2 separate regions of the Homo sapiens genome follow, and region 2 is linked to region 1. Evidence: fine-mapped expression QTL. A gene starts in region 1. The other region holds a variant in brackets. All regions are shown on one strand. Distances are between the middles of the regions. Region 1 holds the start of ELL2 (elongation factor for RNA polymerase II 2). Region 2 holds the start of LOC105379091 (a long non-coding RNA gene).

Region 1 (5,381 bases):
GACATTTAAAGAGCTGATTCCGACCCTGCCTCTCCTGGTTATGTTAGGCAGGTTGCTTTTAAATAAATGGGGGTCTCAGTTCCTCCTTCATAAAACTAATGTGTCCACCTGGAATCATCATGAAGATCATTTTTAGTTGGGCTGTCTCCATCTATACCACCTCCAACTTATCTAGAATCTACTCAACCCTCAAGAGCTGTTCAAGTTCTATCACCTCCATTAAACCTCTTCAGACTTCTCCTTTCTTTGAATTTTTGAGCTTATCACCAACACCGTCCAAATTAGCATTTACTAATTTTCTAATTGCTTTGCTTTGACTATACTGGTTCACTTGCCACACTGAAACAGAAAATTCCTCTAGAGACTTTACAGTTTAATTTTTAAATCCTCTACCGCATGTTATACTTAACTGGTATTCAATGATTATTTAATTATTTAAACCAGATAAAGATACAGAAAATATGTATAAAATGGCAACCTTCCCAAAAAGCACCTTTCATCAGCCTCCTCAAAATAAATTATCCTAACCAGCATCATAACTTGACCATCTGATTCAGGCAGGCGTAATGTGTACTATGCCTGTGAGACATCAATGAAAAGACACTGCTAGATTACCATATTACTTTGTACTTGATCATTTCCTCCTTCCACAGTTGAAAAGCTCAAAAGGGGAAAAATACAAACAACCATTAACTCACTACAATAATATATTAATCCGTGAAAGATTTGTTACCCACTAAAATAGGGCATGAGAAAAATTTTCCTATTATAATTTTTAAAAAAAGTCAATTACTAGTAAGAAGCTACAGGTCAGATATTTGAAAACTACAACGAAAACCATCCTTACTCCTCCCCCACCCGCTTGGATGTCATCAGAAATTCTGAGTAAGAGTAGGCCAAGTTAGGATATCATGTGGGTGGGGATTTACCCACATTCACCGGAAAAGCAGTGGGATACAGGTTTTACTTGTTCCGGTCAAACCTCCCTTCCCCCTCACCTCCCAAATAATTAAGGCTTTAGCTATGTGCTCAGTCCTTTACTATCAAAAAAAAAAAAAAAAAAAGAGAGAGAGAAAAGAAAAGTTCAAGTACAGAATTATTTTTAGATTATAGTCCGCTTAGAGATGAACTATTTGAATAAGGTTTCTACTTTTGGAAAGCGGAGAAAACTAGGTAGTAAAGCCTCTATTTCCCTTCTAAGAGTAAACTTTTTAATCCAATTTGATGATTACCTTAATATCTCTACTACATGAATTTAAGATAACACTGTATCACTAAAGTAAATGAAATTAGCAAGCGTTAATCACGTCTTAACAGCTAGCCAATCTTAGTGGATTGAAATTAAGTCAATTTACAAACTGTTTTCCTGTGATGGAGTAACACTTAATACAGGTGTTTCCACTTAATCCAATTCATTCTGTAATTCACATTATACACCTACTATGTTTGAAGGTCTGAATCAAAAAGGAGTGTACCCGTACGGTGGGGAAGGCATTTATTGGGAGGGGAGGACATGGAATCATGGCCCTAATCCATTTAAAATAATGAAAAATACTGATTAAATATCTATAAACTTTCCCGGGGAATCCCAGTAGAACAGAACATGGTTTTATAAGCTGAGGGTAAAAACAAGCGTCTCAGTTTTTTTATTAAAAGAACTTTTTTAAACTGCCTTTCAACAGTTTGAAAGCTTTCAATGGTTTGTTTTATCTGGTGTTTCTGATCAACCAATTAATCCATCCTCTGACAGGAACCCATCTGTCAGTCTATCCACACACAATCTGAAAGGGACTCCAGATTAGGCTCCCTCTTTTAGCCACGCCTACACAGGAAGCATCCTGTGGATGGAATGGAAAGTATGCCAGGCCTTTGCACGCCCCTCACGCCCCCATCTCCTTCGCTTAACCTCGACAGCCTCTTACCTTTAAACCCTAGCTAGGTTTTCACACAGCCCTATCAAATAAAAAGGACAATACTCAAACTGAATTAGAGAATGAGAATTGTCGAGGTTTCTTTTAATTTAGATCAATGCCAGTTTTACTCTTCTTCTAGAGTCCTTTTTAAGGAGATATCATCCCCACCAGTTGTGATCCCAGAGAATCACAACAGGGCATGGCGTAGGAAAGACCTCGAAGCTCAATTCTCTATTATACCATGCCCACCATACGAAAGGCATTTAACCTCCCGCGTGATTTTGTCCTTAAGATGCTCCACAAGATCTAACACAACTCCTACATCTAAGAGTCGACTCACTAATTTCAAGGGTTTTTGTTTTTGTTTTTGTTTTTATAAGCTCTGCGTGTGGCACCCGATAACTTCAAGTTTAGAGTGAGCAGTTTCCTCCCAATGCCGTTTGCTCAACTACAGTACTAGGAGTTTTGAGGAGCAGCTCTCTAGCGAGTCCTCCTGCTGCGTCCTCCCCCACACGCACGCACCAAGTTCCACAGCTTCCGCAGCCGTCGGGGAACAAAGTCCTTATTTGGTCACGGCCATCCCCTTACATAGTGGAGGTGGAGATCCTCCTCTCCAAGGACCACCCGCGTAGGGCGAGATTCCCCAATTCTGACTTTTCACTACTATCCCCCACAGGGGCGGGGCTCCAACTCCAGGTAACCAGACCAGGCAACCTGGACTTCCAATTAGCAGGGGAGTCCCCAAGCCAGCCTGGCCAATCTCGGCCGGCTAGCCAAGACGACCAGACGTGACGTCAGACATGATTAAGTTGGCGCGTCACCTAGACGTCAGCCTCTTACCTCTCGGACGTCCCGTCCCAGGAGCAAAACTCTAGTGACTTTGGGCCCGCCCCCGTGAGAGTGGAGGGCGGCCGATGAGGGCGGTTCTGAAGGGAACAAGACCAATGAGACGAGCCCGGGGCGGGGCGCGGGGCCGGAGGGTGGGGCGGGTGGCGGCGGTGGCAGTCCGAGGTCTGGCTCCGCGCAGTATATGACAGTACGTCAGCAGCGGGATGGCCCTAGCAGTGGCGGCGGCTGCAGAAGCCCAAGCAGCCGCGGCCGCAGTGGAGGCTAGAGCCGGAGCGGCGGCGGCGGCGGCACCCCGGGGAGTTTAAGATGGCGGCGGGGGGGACAGGGGGCCTGCGGGAGGAGCAGCGCTATGGGCTGTCGTGCGGACGGCTGGGGCAGGACAACATCACCGTACTGCATGTGAAGCTCACCGAGACGGCGATCCGGGCGCTCGAGACTTACCAGAGCCACAAGGTGAGCGGGCCGGCCGGCAGGCTGGGCTCAGAGAGGCAGAGCGCACCCCTCACGGCCTGGCCGCGCCCGGGTGCGGGGCCGGCGGAGCCGTGGCTGGCAGCTGCTACCGTCAGCGCCCGCAGCGGCCAGGCAGGGCAGGGCCGGGCAGGGTGGCTGACGCCGCGGTCCCGGGCTAGCCTGGGCGTTGGGGAAGCGGGCAGTCGGGCGGCCCCTGGCGGCGGGGCCGAGGCAGCCGCAGCCCTGGGTCGGCTGCGCTGCCGCTGCGGGACTTTCCGACGGCCCCCGAGGATTTCCTGGCTTGTTGGGTCCCAAGGAGGGAGAGAGGCCCCGATAAGAGAAGTGAGATGACCACGCTACCCTCGGCGGGGAAGGAGGGTAGCGAGCAGCGTATGGGCAAGGAACCAGGGACGACTCGCGGGCACCAGCTGCCCGCGTTTTCCAGTTACATAGGCACGGTGGATCCTCAGAGACAGGACACAGGCGCTCCGCGTGTGGGGGTGGGACCTTGTATTCCCAGGGACTTGGGGACACAGGCGCTCCACGTATCAGGGGACACACTGTGTGCTCGAAGGGATGGGGACTCGGGCGCATGGTGAGGGGCACACGGTGTACTCATAGAGATAGGGACTTAGGCAGTCCGTGTAAGGGGGCGGCGCACACTGGAACGGCGGGGACACTGGCGCTTCGCGTACGGGGGGGGAGGGGACACACCTGCATTCCCAGGGACTCCGGGACACCGGCGCATCGCGTTACTGGAGACGCGCCGCGTCCAGGACGGACACAAACCAACACAGTGCCCTGGGGAGAGACCTGAGGACTCACGCACACTTAGCGCTCCCCGGGAGCAAGACATCGGGTTCTGGAGAGAGAGGTTCACGGACGCTCAACGTACCCGAAAAAGCTCCCGGCGTCTTGGGCTGACTCTGGGAAGTGTAAACGGGGAACGAGCCAGAGCCAGAAGGTGTGGGGAGGATACAATGCATCCCGGGCAGAGACTCGGGCCTCTCACCCCTCGTTTTCGAGAGAAGCCCATGGACACACACACACACATATACACACACACCCCTCCAGTACAGAGAGAGGCTCAGATAGGCGCACATACACTGTAATTGGACTACAAATCCAGACGCTTTCATGTTGGAAAAAAAATGGGAGAGACAGGGAAGCACCGAGAAGGGACGCGGTAACCAGGGTGCATGGGGAAACAGTTTATGGACATGCAGTACTGTGGGAGACCGGAGTGGATACATCGCGTGAGGGAGGGATATGCCATATGGGGGAACCTGTAACGTTTTACAGGAGAGGAGAGAGTCGGAAGGGAGATAGAACCCACGGGGCATCTTACAAATAGCCCGTTCGGTACTGAGGAACACACTCCAACCGGTCTCGTACAACAGACAGAGGGGCAGAAGGACACCGAGACACAGATTCACATAGTTATTCAGCTAAAAGTGGGGAAAAGAATTGACATCTGTTGAGCTCCCACTAGTGCCAGGCACTTTAAATACATAGAGCGAAGGCAGAGTCTGAGGCAGAGCGGCAGGAGAGGTGTGAACCCTGGTTTACTGGGAGTGTATTCAGAGAGCCCCCCCACCCCATAAGTGTGCACACAGAGGAAGGCATTAGTTGTGCACGCTTTGGATAGAAAATGAACTCACATGATAGGGTATTTGTAAACAGCAGTGGAGGCTCAGAGGTGAGTGTATTGTTAGGAAGGTACTCACAGAATTGGGTGGACACATGAATGTACGTGCTAGGACACTTGTGTTACTAACCAGAGAAGCATATGGTGAAAAGGACTCACAGACTTTGTGTGGTGGGGTGAGGGGGCGTCAGGGAGGAGTGCATGCACAGGGAGAAAGGTACCGTCCTACATACAGTGAAATCTCGAGAGAAAATCTCAAGAATGGCTGGGAGAGATACAAGAAATAGAAAACTGCATGTGCCAATAGCTACTCTTAGATAGGTGCACCTGCAGTGAAGAGACCAGCATCAGACGGAGTGGGAGGCCCATATGGGGGAAGCCAGAAACACAGGCAGAGGGACAGAAGCAGACAGTGGAGAGAAACTCTGGAGAGAAACTCAGCCTTGCAAGATGGAAAGATAAGCTTGCCTGTTCCAAGGGAAGGGCGTGGGAAGGAATGGCAGTGGGAAGAAGGTAGGTCT
Region 2 (5,381 bases), 100 kb after region 1:
CAGCCTTCCAGCCAGAAGATGAATGTTTGCAAATCATAAACTAAGTATGTAGCACTTCGGACCTAAAAGGAGTGGTTCCATACGTTGTGAAATCCACCTACTCTGGAGCACTTGCCGGGGCTGTCCCTTTATAGTTTGGCCCTTGGCTGGGCAGTCATGCTACCCTCCAGTGAGAGCTGTCCCCAGCCTTGCATTTACATTCTCCCAAATGCCCACCTCCATAGCTGCCCTTCTTCATCTACCCCACCTTGCCAGATGTGCTTAGGAAGCTAACAGGCAGACCACGTACATACTTAGGGCAGCAGCAATTCACAGAAGAAAAGGAAAAATTAAACATATTTTAATCAACCAGGTGGTTACCATGGGAGAAATTTTTATATTTATGTTGTGGCTTTGAATAGCTTTCATTTTGAAGATGGGGTAGCAGAAAACGAATCTTAATATCTTTGATTCATGGAGACTTTAAAGGTCTTTATCAGGTACTGCTTTCTAGAGTTCTACAGACTGATTTTTGCTCCTCCCTGCTTCCCAGTGAATCTTGTACCCCAAGTTGATGTGACTCAGGAGTTAAATCCTGCTGGAAATCTGGAACTTGTCAAGCCTTGATCTGCCTTAACATGAACTATTTAGCTCCTATTGTTCCACCCTTGCATGACCCCAATTAAGGCAATAATAGAACCCAGTACTTTCAGAGTCTTTAAAGCCAAATGATAAAGCTTTATTCCTTAGTTTTGTGGTAGTTTGGAATCTTCATTTTCATGGAGTTGATGAACACTAAGTATTTACTCTCTTCACATATGCAAAAAAAAATTGTATGACCCCAATCTCTCCTGTCTTCTAAAAGACTTAAGTGCGTATTTTCACTAGATCCTACATAGACCCACTATATAAAATGGGCATTGATATTTTTATTTTTAAGACCTAGTAGGTGCTATGTAACCAAATTCTCCTAAATTGTAAGATGGAGTTGACACACCAAGGCAGAAGCACCTGTGGACATTACGCCCATAGGAGTCAACTTGGGTGGGTACATGGTTGCTGCGCTGGTTGGACCATTTCTGCTCTAAGTCACACCAGATGAGGTTGAGAAGGTTAGGAGTTGACTTAGCAGCTGTTAGTTACTACCAAATGCTGTGTGAGCACTAGATCTCAAAAAACTTTGAAATATATATGTGTGTATATATACATGTATGTATATAGTTGTGTGTATATGTATATGTATATATACAGTGTATATATACATATTTGCACACAAAATAAACCAGGTAGACAGTGTACATCTCTTAAAGGAATTACAACAGCACTTCACAATAAAATTTTAAAAACTATATTGCCCACAGCATTTAAAATATAGTGTAGGTATTTTTGACAGCTTTATGAAGTTTTAGAAAAAATAAAACTATATGCAGAAGACCTAATGATTTGATTTACAATGCCAATTTTAAAATTATATTTTCAGAGTTCAAACAACCAATACATACCCTCACCCCCAGCGCCCCAGGTATCCTTTCCTTGGTAACCTCATGCTGGGCAAGAACAAAGGGACTGAAGTGGCAAGATCTACTCCACAGTCTGTGCCTACTCCTTCTCCTTCTACCCTGACAGGAAGAAATCATGGGGCCTGAGATTTCTGTAAACATGAGGCTCTTGCTCAATGCTCTGGGGAACATAAACCCCAAGCCCTGGCAGAGGGGAAATCTCCTCCCACTTTCTAAAACTAGACAGTCGGGCCTAATATGAACCATGGAGTTCAGCAGCACCAGAGCGATCCTGAGTGGTCACAGTGTGTCCACATCAAATCGAAACACACAGGCAATTTGGGTACATTTCCCCTGCCAGTTTAGGATGGAAATGAGAGTTGGAAGAAAGGTCTCAGGAGCCCCAACCTTTTACCCTCCAGGTCACTGGTCACCTCCTTAGGACCTCCAGGACAAACTGCTCCTCTCTGTGGTGTGGGATTTGCTTGCGGAGACAACACGTTTGTTTAGCCTTACACATGAATGCAGAGCATATGGAGAAGTAAACCTCACTGACCACTGCTTCCCCAAGTGACTTCTCTCCCACGCCCCTCATGGAAAGCCCTACAAAGGAAAAATCAATCTTCTCAGCTTTAAACCTGCCTTCTGTCCTCGTCAGATGTTGCCAAGCACGAAGTGTTACGGGGGCTCCTATCACAAAGCAAACAGAGCTGGAGCAGCCGGAAGGAGAGCTGCTCTCTAAAAGCTTTTAAACACTGTTATATTTTTAAAACCACTTACTGAAGAGGTGAGTTATTTTCTACTCCTCCTTCCCCAGAAGCACAGACATTAAGGTTACCTAGAAACTTGTCCAGGAAGCATGTGGCAAATAACAACCATGCAATAGAAACATCCGGATTTGTCATCTAATAGGAGATGGTATCAGCAAGGTCATATTTGGATAGAGGTGGAAGATGAAACTTCATTAGCTTGCATGCCCCAGCTACTGGGGGGCCATTCCCATGTGCTCTGGAGGAGGGAGACTTTGCTTTTATCTTGGCTGGGAGGGCCTTTGATTGGTACAGGTTGGAAATGAGTAAGATCTGAGATTGACGCTTCTTGTACTGAAGACTGCCTGTGGGAATAAAAAGCAGAGGGAGAATAAAAAGACATGAGATGGGGTCGCCTCTACCCTGGAAGAACATCTAATCTGTAGGATGGA[C/T]GAGATGGGATGTACACAGAGAATGACCTGAGAACAAAATTGTTTTTTTAAGTTTCAGAAGCAAAATAATATTCCGTGAAGGACCAGAAGGGGGACAGGAAGACTTCTTAGTGAAGGTGGTTTTAAATCAGGTCTTGAGAGACAGTGAGAACAGCAGAGAATATGGGAGAGAAGGGATGGGGTGGCTGGCATGGTTCTGTTAGCGAGTCACATGTGCTGAGGACATGGATGTGGTGCTGTTTACTTTGATATTTCATTTCCATTATTGTAGGAGAAGGAAAGGGAGATGACGCCTCTTTATTTTTATAACTTTAGCTCCAGACTTTCTAAAAAAAAGTCTTCATTTCATGAAGGCAGTTTTGCTGTTTCCAAAGAGCTTATTCCTAATGCGTATTTCCAACCAACACCCTCTCTGTGTCAGATGAGGTGATAACATTTGTAATTGCAGAGAAGCAGAAAAGTGTGACTCACCTGTTTCACCACGAAGACTTTGCCGCAGACGTGGGGTTTAGGGAGATTCAGCTGGTATGAAAAAAGCAGCAGGAGCAATGGGCCACTGGGAAAAATGGTCTAGGGATCTTTGCTGCACCCAGTTTCCTCTTGCTTTATCCCAGAATATACCCTTTTTCCAATTCATCATAAAGAAGGGGGACTAGTGAAACTCAGGAATTCTGGAAGTTAAGCTATCTGCAAACTTATTCTGAGGAATCAGTGCAAACACACAGGGCCAGCTATGGGACAATGCCTGGGCTTTCTACACTGACTTCTTTCCATTCGATGGTCATCAGTTTTATCAGGGGCATCAGGGCTTCTGTGTAAGTCACTAAAACATGGCCGAAGGTACTTGAGCAACCACAAAAAAATTTGACGCTAAAAATATAGGCAGGAAATCTCCACATGCAAACAATTCTCAGGAAGAGGAGAGGGGTGCGTCATAAAAGTCCGGCTGACATTCTACACTCCTCTCAAATTACATGCAGCCAGTGCCGTCGGCCTGAAAATATTGAGCAATATTCCAGCCGTCCTCTTGTCACATGTACTTCATGAATGCTGGGCTCATCAGGCAGAAGCACCCAGGCATCAAAACACTCGCCTGAGAATTGAGGAACGTGGCCACCGTCTTCTTGGCGAGACCTCGACTGTAGGAAGCACCTGACCTCAGCTCCTCTGAAAATGGAATGAAGCATTTTACAGATCTGTACCTGGTCTTCCCCAGTCACTTCAAAAAGGATAAGAGGCAGGAGTTTAAAGTATGAGTTGGAAGTTGAAAGATTTAGTGGCCCTTCTGACATCCCATGGTCTCAGGAAATTCAGTTAAGCTCTCTGCGAGTTTCCATTTCCCCATCGCTGAAATGATGTGAATTCATGCTACCTATTCGGCGGATATTAAAATGCAATAGACCTAGGCATTGTTCTATGTATGGGAGAGTGTATGTGTATTGATAACTATTGTTTTCTTTTCCAGACTTACTGTTCTCACTACCCTGATGTATCCAGATCAGTTAAAACCTATTACTTAGCAAAGTTTCAGTTTGAATTTGTGTCCTCTCACACACACATAAAACACATACACACACACACTCAAAAAGGATCAGAATTCTTTTTTCTTTTCTTTTTTTTTTTTTTGAGACTGAGTCTCGCCCAGGCTGGAGTGCAGTGGTACAATCTCGGCTCACTGCAATTTTTGCCTCCCAGGTTCAAGCGATTCTCCTGTTTCAGCCTCCTGAGTAGCTGGGATTACAAGCACCTGCCACCATGCCCGGCTAATTTTTGTATTTTTAGTAGAGATGGGGTTTCGCCATGTTGGCCAGGCTGGTCTCAAACTCCTGACCTCAGATGATTCACCCGCCTGGGCCTCCCAAAGGGCTGGGATTACAGGCATGAGCCACCGCGCCCGGCCAGAATTCTTTTTTTTCCTTTCAACTACAATATGTTTTTCTGAGTGAGGAAGAAAGAGAATTTACATCACAAGGCAAAAAATACTCATAATATTGCATGCATCCATGGGAGAATATATTACAATACGAGCACCATTTTCCCTGGGTGCCAGGGGTGGGGCAGTTTAGCTGGAAAAGCTAAATTCTGCTCCACTTGGATTGAAAACGTTCAGATGTTTTGTTTATGTGTTTGCTTTCTTGCTTATTCACCTACGACATCTAATCCTTTAGTCTGAATAGTATCCAGTGAATACACTCCTGTCCCTCTCCTCAGTCCTCACCCAAATGCAGTAAAGCAAGAGATCAGCAGGGCAGCCAGAGAGCCCACACCAGTGAGGCCAGGAAAGAAAACAGAGCTCAAGAGGGTCCACATGAAGGTTTCCTTCCTTATCTAGTCCCCAGAGGCTTTTTTTTCTAAGTAAAACTCCCAAAGAACTAAAAACAAAGGAAACACAAAAAATTCAACGTGGTATAGAAATTTCGGTAGAAGAACTTTTATTGAACAGTAAGATTCAAGATTTCACCAGGTGAGAGGGGGAATTGAAAATTAGTAGAAAAATTCCAAGGGGACCAGTTAGCCACAACAAAGAATGGGGTTCAGGGAACTTCTTAGGGATGTATCTTCCCCTCAATACAGGTAGAGGAGCAGCATCAGAAGCAGGGCGTTGGAGAGAGGCATAGAAGAGAATCACCTTCTCCTGGCCCACGCAAGCTACCTGGTGTACCTTCAAGTTCAGGCCAGCTGCTGTTCCTGCCCGCTCTTGG

Evidence for each region. PIP is the estimated chance that this variant, and not a neighbour inherited with it, causes the effect.
Region 2: its variant is fine-mapped to the expression of ELL2 in whole blood (TOPMed, PIP 0.90).

The regions. Positions count from the first base shown.
Region 1 is chr5:95,959,409-95,964,789 of GRCh38, reverse strand. It overlaps ELL2 (elongation factor for RNA polymerase II 2), which reads left to right and starts at 2,939. Exons shown (of 12, transcript NM_012081.6): 1 at 2,939-3,215. The coding sequence starts at 3,069. It overlaps LOC101929710 (a long non-coding RNA gene), which reads right to left and starts at 2,789. Exons shown (of 5, transcript NR_130776.1): 1 at 2,754-2,789. It also overlaps a transcript of CAST not described here. RefSeq lists silencers at 2,383-2,850, 2,806-3,045, 3,116-3,525 and an enhancer at 2,330-3,087.
Region 2 is chr5:95,859,847-95,865,227 of GRCh38, reverse strand. It overlaps LINC01554 (long intergenic non-protein coding RNA 1554), which reads right to left. Exons shown (of 3, transcript NR_026936.1): 3 at 5,095-5,381. It overlaps LOC105379091 (a long non-coding RNA gene), which reads right to left and starts at 3,444. Exons shown (of 3, transcript XR_001742813.2): 1 at 1,482-3,444. RefSeq lists enhancers at 1,304-1,805, 2,061-3,260. The variant C/T (reference allele first, on the strand shown) is at 2,680.